2 separate regions of the Homo sapiens genome follow, and region 1 is linked to region 2. The links come from fine-mapping of genetic effects on plasma protein levels. Region 2 holds a variant in brackets. A gene starts in the other region. All regions are shown on their forward strands. Region 1 holds the start of EPHB4 (EPH receptor B4). Region 2 has its middle 250 kb from the start of LINC00460.

What was found. PIP is the chance, under the fine-mapping model, that this variant and not a neighbour inherited with it causes the effect. Protein levels are from antibody-based Olink assays in UK Biobank. Linkage for the fine-mapping came from a reference panel and not from the study's own genotypes, which makes the PIPs less certain.
Region 1: EPHB4 starts here. The variant in region 2 is fine-mapped to the plasma level of the EPHB4 protein (UK Biobank, PIP 0.99).

The regions. Positions count from the first base shown.
Region 1 is chr7:100,825,781-100,830,105 of GRCh38, forward strand. EPHB4 (EPH receptor B4) reads right to left here and starts at 1,743. Exons shown (of 17, transcript NM_004444.5): 1 at 1,199-1,743. The coding sequence starts at 1,250. It also overlaps a transcript of SLC12A9 not described here. RefSeq lists enhancers at 1,747-2,542, 3,339-4,134.
Region 2 is chr13:106,125,316-106,129,697 of GRCh38, forward strand. No RefSeq gene overlaps it. Among named protein-coding and RNA genes, the nearest start is that of LINC00460, 250 kb to the right of the region's middle. The variant C/T (reference allele first, on the strand shown) is at 2,433.

The DNA of each region.
Region 1 (4,325 bases), not on the chromosome of region 2:
ACACTCAGGTAATAGGTGTCACAATCACCATTTCCTCTTTGCGTCTTTCCTTCTCACCACACCTCGTCCTCGTGGTTTTTCCACCCCTTTGGCCTTCCTCTTCCCCTCGTTCATGGTTTTTGTTCCCCCTTCTCCGTTCTCTGAGCTGGGCAAGCCTCCCCTCACTCCCAACCCCACACCTAGCCTTTGATCCCCAGCCCAGGGCAGTCCTGCCCAGCCAGGGGGAGAGGGTTTTTCTAACGCCGCTGAATCCTTCCCTTTGGGAGTCCCTCATAGCCTACCGCCCCATAACCACTTTCATACCAGACAGAGAAAGGGGGGTGTTGGCAGCTCACTGAAAGGACATTAGGGACACAGGAGAGTTTCTAGGGCTCTTGGCTCCCCCTTTAGGGGACCAGGAGGGACAGCGATCCATGGCCAAAGAAATGCTTGGAGAGACCAGGAGGTGGGAGATAGACTGGGTTAGTTAGGGCGATGTGGGGGCTGTGTAGGTCAGTTTCTACCTGGGGGCTGTGTAGGTCAGTTTCTACCCGCTCCTAGGTCTCAAGGGAAGCCCGGGACTCACCTGGGGCCGGGGTCTAGACCGCATTTAAAGGGATGGGGTGCAGCCTGTAGAAACCAAGGAGCCACCCTATACCAGGGGCAGGAGCAGTGGGCGGGAGAGCGGTTTGGGGGTTTGCTGTGTGAATGCAAAGGAGGCCATCCTGTTGCAGGAGTGTGGAACTGGAGGATCAAGGTGTGATCGCTAAGGAATTGGCGCTGGGGGTCGTTTTAGGGCCTAGCACGAAAAGTTGTGCCTTGTCTGCTGTTGCTTCTCCAGAAACCTTCCCTCATGTACGGCGGGAGGTGGGACTGGGACAGAAACTTTGCAGATAGTTTTGAATAGTGGGGTAGGGAGGAAAGGAAAGGCAGCCAGGGGCGTATGTAATCAGCAGTGAGAGTTCGGGGAGCCCGGGCAGGGGAATGTCCCGGGTCGTAGCCAGACTCCATCTCTTTCCCAAACAAAAGAAAACTCCACTACCCGTCGGGCGCCTCTTCCCCGCCCCCCTCCCGTTCCAGCACTATCGGTCCGAAGTGTTTGGGACTGCAGTGCCCGGGTAGGGGTAGTCAGAGGCCGGCCCCTCCACTCCGAGGCCCAGATGTTGGGGGGGAGGTCCCAGGAGTGACGGGGTGCGCCCCCCCCCGCAAGGAAACTCACCTTCCAAAGCTGCGGCCAACGAAGCCCAGCAGAGCAGCACCCGGAGCTCCATGGCGCCGCCTCACTCGGGTAGGATCCGAACTGAGTTTGGGGGGCCCTCGCCCCCCCAGGTCTGACTCTCCCTGGGCGGGTGGACGCCGATACTCCGCGCGGGACTCCTCGTCGGGGCCCTCAGCGCGGGCCCATGCGAGCGTGCGGGGCACCGGGCGGCGGCGCCAAGTGTGGCCCCGCGTCTGTGCCGCGCGCGCGGGCGGCGGGCCCGGAGCGTGCTGGCAGTGGCCGCGCCGGGCGGGCGCGCAGCAAGACGTGGCTGGAGTTGGGGTCCCTCCGGGGCCTCGGGGTCCCGCCCCGGGTGGCGGGGGCTGAGCCGGCCGCTCGCGGTCTCCCCCCCTCCCTGGAGTGGCTCTGCTCGCGCCGCCGGGCCGAGTGCTCTCCTCGCGGGCGGGGATGGTGGGAGCCCGAGCGGGGACGGAGCGGGAGGGAGGGAGACTGCGGCGCGGAGCCGGGCGGGCCGGGCCGGGCAGGGGCTGAGCTGCGCTGGAACTGGGCCGGGCGGCGCCGGGCCCGGGAGGGAGGGGCGCGCGGGGGGCGGGGGCAGCTCTCCCAACGCGGGGGCTCCGCGAGTGAGCCCCGGGCGCGCTGATTGGAGCTCACGCTACTGAATAATTCATGAGGGAAGCGGAGAGGGGCACCGAGTGGAGCAGGTCGGGAAGTTGAGAGAAAGTTTGGAGAAGGGGGAGGGGCGGCGGGTGAGGAACCCCGGGACCGCCCAGATGTGCGCCGTGGCGGTGCGCGCTGTCCAGGACCGAGCATGTCGGGGCTGGGGCCCAGGGACCCCCGGGACAGGCCCGAACCCGGCTGGCACCAGGGAGCAGAGAAAACACACACCCAGCAGCAACACGGAGGGCCGCCCAGGCGTGCACGTAAATGTTCACCGCGCACACAAAGCCCGCTCTGACCTTGCTGCGGACTCTAGATGCCGCTCTTGGATGCGCCCACCACCCTCTAGTGGGCGCAGGGACTGCGTTTTGGGGGAAAAGGAAGGAAAAGGGAGTAGAAGCTTTGGAGAATTGACGGCCGCCCAGGGGGCCTCAAGGAGCAATCCCAGTTTGGATAGCCTTGCAGCGAACGTTCACACAGTCACCCCATAAACATTCAGTGTTGGGGACCTACTGTGCGCGCAACCAAGCCCTGAAAAATGTCCAGAGGAGGCGCGCACTAAGCTGCGCTAGGGAGTAGAGAAAAATCGAGGAAACAACGGTAAAGAAAAGGTGGGTGTGGCGGGCGCGGTGGCTCACGCCTGTAGTCCCAGCATTTTGGGAGGCAGAGGCAGGCGGATCATTTGAGGTCAGGAGTTCAAGACCAGCCTGGCCAACATGATGAAACCCCGTCTCTACTAAAAATACAAAAATTAGCTGGGCATGGTGGCGCGCGCCTGTAATCCTAGCTACTCGGGAGGCTGAGGCAGGAGAATTGCTTGAACCGGGACCTAGGAGGCGGAGGTTGCAGTGAGCTGGGAGCTGAGATCGCGCCACTGCACTCCAGCCTGGGCTACAGAGTGAGACGAAATCTCAAAAAAAAAAAAAAAAAAAAAAAAGGTGGGTGTGTCCGAGAGGGTGAGGGGTCCGGCTAGATCTCCAAATCGCCCTTCTCACTCTCACTCTCGTGTTTTGGGGGGGCTTCCCCGCCGCCCGCAGCCATGACCCCTGAGGCTGGGGCTGCGGCTGCGGCTGCTGTCTTTCCTGAGCTGTTTCCTGTCTGGCTCCTGGGGGCCCTCGGGATGGCTGGGAGGGGCCCTTCCTCTCACTGCCAACTCCCCTCACCCTCCCATCAGTTAGCGGGGAGGGTCCAGCACAGCCGTGCTCCTCCCACCAACCCCCTTCTACTTCAGGGAACTTAACAGTATGGGTTACTGGATAGATGGATTGGAGGGGGTGCTGCTCCAGGAGTCAGCCCCTCCAAGGGGCAGAAGGAAAGGACTTAGACTCCCACAGTAATTAGCGGGGACAGATTTTTTTTTTTTTTTTGAGACAGAGTCTCCCTCTATTTCCCAGGCTGGAGTGCAGTGGCGTGATCTGGGCTCACTGCAACCTCCGCCTCCCAGGTTCAAGCGATTCTCCTGCCTCAGCCTCCCGAGTAGCTGGGATTACAGGCACAGGGCACCAACCCCGGCTAGTTTTCGTATTTTTAGTAGAGACAGGGTTTCGCCATGTTGGCCAGGCTGGTCTCGAACTCCTGACCTAAAGTGATCCACCCACCTTGGCCTCCCAAAGTGCTGGGATTACAGACGTTAGCCACCGCGCCCAGCCGGAGGACAGAATCTTGAGGAGCCCAGCAAGAGAGACGTTGGAGCCCAGCAAGAGAGACGTTGGAGTCCAGGATGCTTGGGGGGCTGCCAAGCGCCCTTACGTCCCAGAAAGGACAGCCGGGCCTGTGATAACCTCTTGTCCCGGCTTACTTATCTTCCTGCTGCAAGAGGTGTTCCCCACACCCCTGCCCTTCCTTGCTGTTCTGCCTGGGTCCTGCGCCCGGGTTGGGGGGGGTGGGCCGGTCACCGAGGGCAGGAAACAGCCGGCTTCACTGGAGCCAGGCAGACCAGGCTGGAGCTGGGAATTCCCTCCTCCCTCCCCGATGCAGGCCCAGTCTCCCCTTCTCTTATTCAGCTTCTCCCTCGGGGTTCTCTGCAACCCTCTCCCAAACCCCTGCCCTGCCTTTTGCCACTCTCACTCTGTACCCAGATCCTGTAGCCTCTAAAAGTTATGTCTTCTGGCTGGGGACAGTAGCTCAGGTCTGTAATCTCAGCATTTTGGGAGGCCGAGGCGGGTGGATCACTTGAGCCCAAGAGTTCGAGACCAGCCTAGCCAACATGGTGAAACCCCTCTCTACTAAAAATACAAAAATCAGCTGGGCATCATGGCACACACCTGTAGTCCCAGCTACTAGGGAGGCTGAGGCACGAGAATCGCTTGAACCCGGGAGGCAGAAGTTGCAGTGAGCAGAGATTGCACCACTGCACTCCAGCCTGGGCAACAGAGCCACACTCTGTCTCCAAAAAATATATAAAGTAAATAAATAAGTAAATAAATAAATAGGCTGGGCGCAGTGGCTCACACCTGTAATCCCAGCA
Region 2 (4,382 bases):
CCTGCTGAAAGCCTGCCTGTGGCTCCTCACCTCACCCTGCCAAGGCCAGGGCTCTCTTCTGGGCCTGGCAATGCCCTGTGTGATGGGCCTCCTCTCCTATGACTTACTCCAGGGCTCACTGCCCGGGCACCTTCTGGAGCACACCAAGCCGAATCCCTCCCCGGGCGCTTTGCCTTTGCTTTTCTCTTCCTGCCTAGAGTGGTCTTCCCCCAGGTGCCCACAGGGCTGCTCCTGCAATTCCCCAGGTCTCTATTCAAATGTTACCCCATCAGCACAGCTTCTTCTGATCAACCTCTCTAAAGACAAATCGGTCCTCCTGCCCCTCCCCAGGGCTCACCACTCCTCCCTTGCCTGCTTTATTCTTCTAGACTGGGGCTAGCAAACTTTTCCTTAAAGGGCCAGAAAGCAAATGTTTTCACCTTTGCAGGCCACATGGCTTCTGCATGCAATTATTCAAGGCTGTCACTATAGCGTATAAACGGCCGTAGGTGATACATAAACAAATGAGCGTGGCTGTGTTCCAGTAAATCTGTTTACATAAAAAGGTGGCAGGCCAGATTTTGCCAATAAGCCATAGTTTGTAGACCCCTGTTTCAAATAAAGGCTATTCCATGTTTACTTGCTATCTGGGTTTGGTTTTGTTGGTTTTTTCCGATCTCTCATTATGGAATCGAAGCTCCACTAGAGAATGCACACACTTTTCTTCACTACTGTAACTTCAGTGCTCACAAGAGCAATGGGCCATGAATTCAATATTCATTGGATGAATGAATGAATTCACCAACATGATACACTTTATTTCTACTATCCTTCATATATCTCCTTCCTCCAATGCAATAGATACTCCTTCTGATCAATCTATCCCCTCAATATTGTTTGCTTATATTTTATTCTAACCAGACTTTGCTCTCCTTGATGGCAGAGGTGAGCTTATTCCCTTCCTTAGGTCCAATACGCATCAGATGACCTAACAGATAGAACCTACCCAACAGATTTGTACTGAATGAAGGAATCTATCAAGAAAACAAGATCGAGGTAAGAGAAGGGAAGCCTAAGCTGAGGTTGGTGACAGGAGCTTACAGGAAAAAGGGTATCTTAGGAGGGTAATTGCTAGCAATTCTCACTGATTATAGAAAATGGAGATGATATTCTGTTCTACTTTTTGCTGCTCAAACAATACCTGGAAGGCTTTTTTCCAACCCAAGTCCCCATACTTAAACAAACAAACAAAAAAATTGTGGCAGCATATGATGTTTTAGAGAAATCCAGCCAGGATAGTGAAAGGAAGGAAACCTGACACGCGAAGAACAGTTGAAAAACTGGTGATGGTAAAAAAATTGAGACTGCTTAGCCTAGAAAAGAAGAGACTTAGAGAGGTACATGCGAGCTGCCTTCCAATACTGAAAAGGTTGTCAGATTTAAGAGGGATTAAATTCTCTACGAATTCTCTAGAAATCGAATAACCTTGTAAAATTTACAGGGAGGTAGGTTTTAGTTCAATATAAGAAAGAAATTTCTAGGGATTGGAGCCATCCGAAAACAGAGTGAGCTGTCATCAGAAGATGTATTTTCCAACACCAGAAATTTTCAAAATGAGATGGACAACTTGACCCGGGCAACCAGGAAGAGCCTGGAAGGATGTGGGCTTGAGGTCAAGGTCTTTGCCCAGGTAACAAGTGTTATTTTCCAACTGAGATTATATGATTCTCCAGAAAGCTACGGAGAGGAAGAAATGCATCCAAAAGTGGAAGTGATGACCCAACATGCTAGCCATTGTCTCAAAAGGTCTTTGGGGTCATGATACAGGGCTTCAAACTGGCCCAGATTTAGGCACTTTATTACCAGCTGACATATCCCCATCAGAGAAAATTTTTCAATGGATCATCTCAAAGCTAAAACAAAGAGCTGGGTAGTTTAAGAAAAAGGGACCTGGGCCAGGCGCGGTAGCTCACGCCTGTAATCCCAGCACTTTGGAAGGCCAAGGAGGGCGGATCACATGAGGTTGGGAGTTCGAGACCAGACTGACCAACATGGACAAACCCTGTCTCTACTAAAATTACAAAATTAGCCGGGTGTGGTGGCGCATGCCTGTAATCCCAGCTATTCGGGAGGCTGAGGCAGGAGAATCACTTGAACCCAGGAGGCAGAGGTTGCGGTGAGCCGAGATTGCACTATTGCACTCCAGCCTGGGCAACAAGAGCAAAACTCGTTCTAAAAAAAAAAGAATAAGGGACCTATTCCAGTCATAAGAAATAAAGTGTTCAAGAGGCCCAACATTCGCTGCAGCCTTCACAGCTGCCTGTTAATTCCTCTGTTTTCACTGTGAACAGAAATTCTAACTCCTACTCACAGATGATGCAAACTTAATTTTCTTCCTTAGAATTTCCACTTCACACCTCTAACCCACTATTTTTCAATAGATGACTTTACCT[C/T]CTACTTCTCAGAGAATTAAGTGGCCATCAGAAAAAAACACCATCTACTTTCTACCAGTGTTTTGCAAATCTCATTCCTACCTACTACTGTGTATCTTATATCAGTGAATTTTCCATCATGTGCCAACTCTTCAGTCAAGAACCTAGCTTACATTCTTGATGTTGCCCTTTCTTCCTCCCCAACAGATAAACACTCAGCAAATTGCGCTGATTCAGATTAATTAAAATTCCCAAGTCAATGCATTTCCTCCTGACAGTCTCCGAACTCTTTGTAGCCTCGAGTCCTTCCTATTTCCTGAGTGACATTTCTAAAACACAAAAGCATATCACTCCCCTGCCTAAACCCATCCAGGGCTCCCCATGACTATCAGGATAAAACCCACACTGCAGAGCAGGGCATAAAGTGTTCTCCTCGCCTGCCTCTCCAGTCTCACTGCTACTGTCACTGCACTTTCAATACGTTCTTCCTGTGTATTAATTTTCTGTTGTTGCTGTCACAAATTACCACAAACTGAGTGGTTTAAAACATCATACATTTATCTTCGGGTTTCGAAGGTCAGATGCCCAACCCAGTCTCCCTAGGTTAAAATTCAGGTGTTGGTAGGGACATGTGCTACTCTGGAGGCTCCAGGGGGGAATCGATTAGGTTGGTGCAAAAGTAATTGTGGTTTTTGCCATTAAAAGTAATAGCAAAAACTGCAATTACTTTTGCACCAATCTAATATTTCTTTGCCTTTTCCAGCTACTAGTTGCTGCCTGCATTCCTTGGCTCCTGGCCCCTTCCTCCATCTCCAAAGCCAGAATCAACAGGATGAGTCCTCACATCACATCCCCCTGACCTCCTCTTCTGCCTCCATATTCCACTCTTAAGGGCTCTTGTGATCATATTGAGCTCACCTGAATAATCCAGGAAAATCTCACTATTTTCAGGTCAGCTGCTTAGCAAACATTCCATCTGTGACATAAATCTGCTTTTGCCTAATATGTAACCTAATATAGTCACAGGATTTTTTCTGTGACCATGATTCTGCCAAACACACAATTCACACCTAACTTGTAGTCCCACATCCATCCATGGGCTATTTCACATACTGGTCCCCTACCTGGAGAGCACCTTCTCTCTTACATAAGCCCACCCCACTCCCATTGTTTGACTAATTCCTATGGCCCTTCAGGATCCAGCTATCACATCCTTCCTTCTCTGGCAAGCCTCCTATAAGCCTGTGAGGTTGGGATGAGTACTTCCATTCTGCATTCCAATGAGCCCTCCATGCTTACCTGTAAGGGATGCATAGTAAGCCATTACTTATTGTACTCTCCTAGAGAAACATTGTCCCATTTAACTCTATATCCAGAGTGACTAGCCCAATTCCTCGCATCTAGTACGTCCTCAACACAGACCTAGCCATTCAGATCCATTCCAGTCTGCTGTATTTAACTCCTGGGTTAAACTGCACTCCCAGGACCTCCATAATCAACCCAAAGGTTCTTTTTCTTTTCTATTTTTCTAAACCACTTCTCATTTTGTCTCCACTTCCTTGTTTGCCTTTTATGTAAGCATATGTGTATACGGTAATGATTTTTTTCCTCTTACTTCAAGTGATTTATCTTTAAAGGCTAACTTCACATATTCTCTGTGGATTCCTAGCAATAACCTAGAAAGCAGATAGGCAATCCCTTCAGAGTGTCAATATTTATTTATGTCTACATTTTGTTGACTAAATGATACAGATTCTAAGCCTTCAGGGCAGAGCTCTTGGATAATGTGCTTTGTTTACCTATTAGTGCACCAGTGACAGTCTACAAAGAGCTACAATGATCACAATATATTATTTGTACAGGCCAATGCATGCCTTTATTATTATCACATTTGTGGCAAATGTGATATTTGCCAGAGTGGTTAGCACTTAAGTCTAATGATCTAGAAACAAGGTCATGTTATCAAGTTTC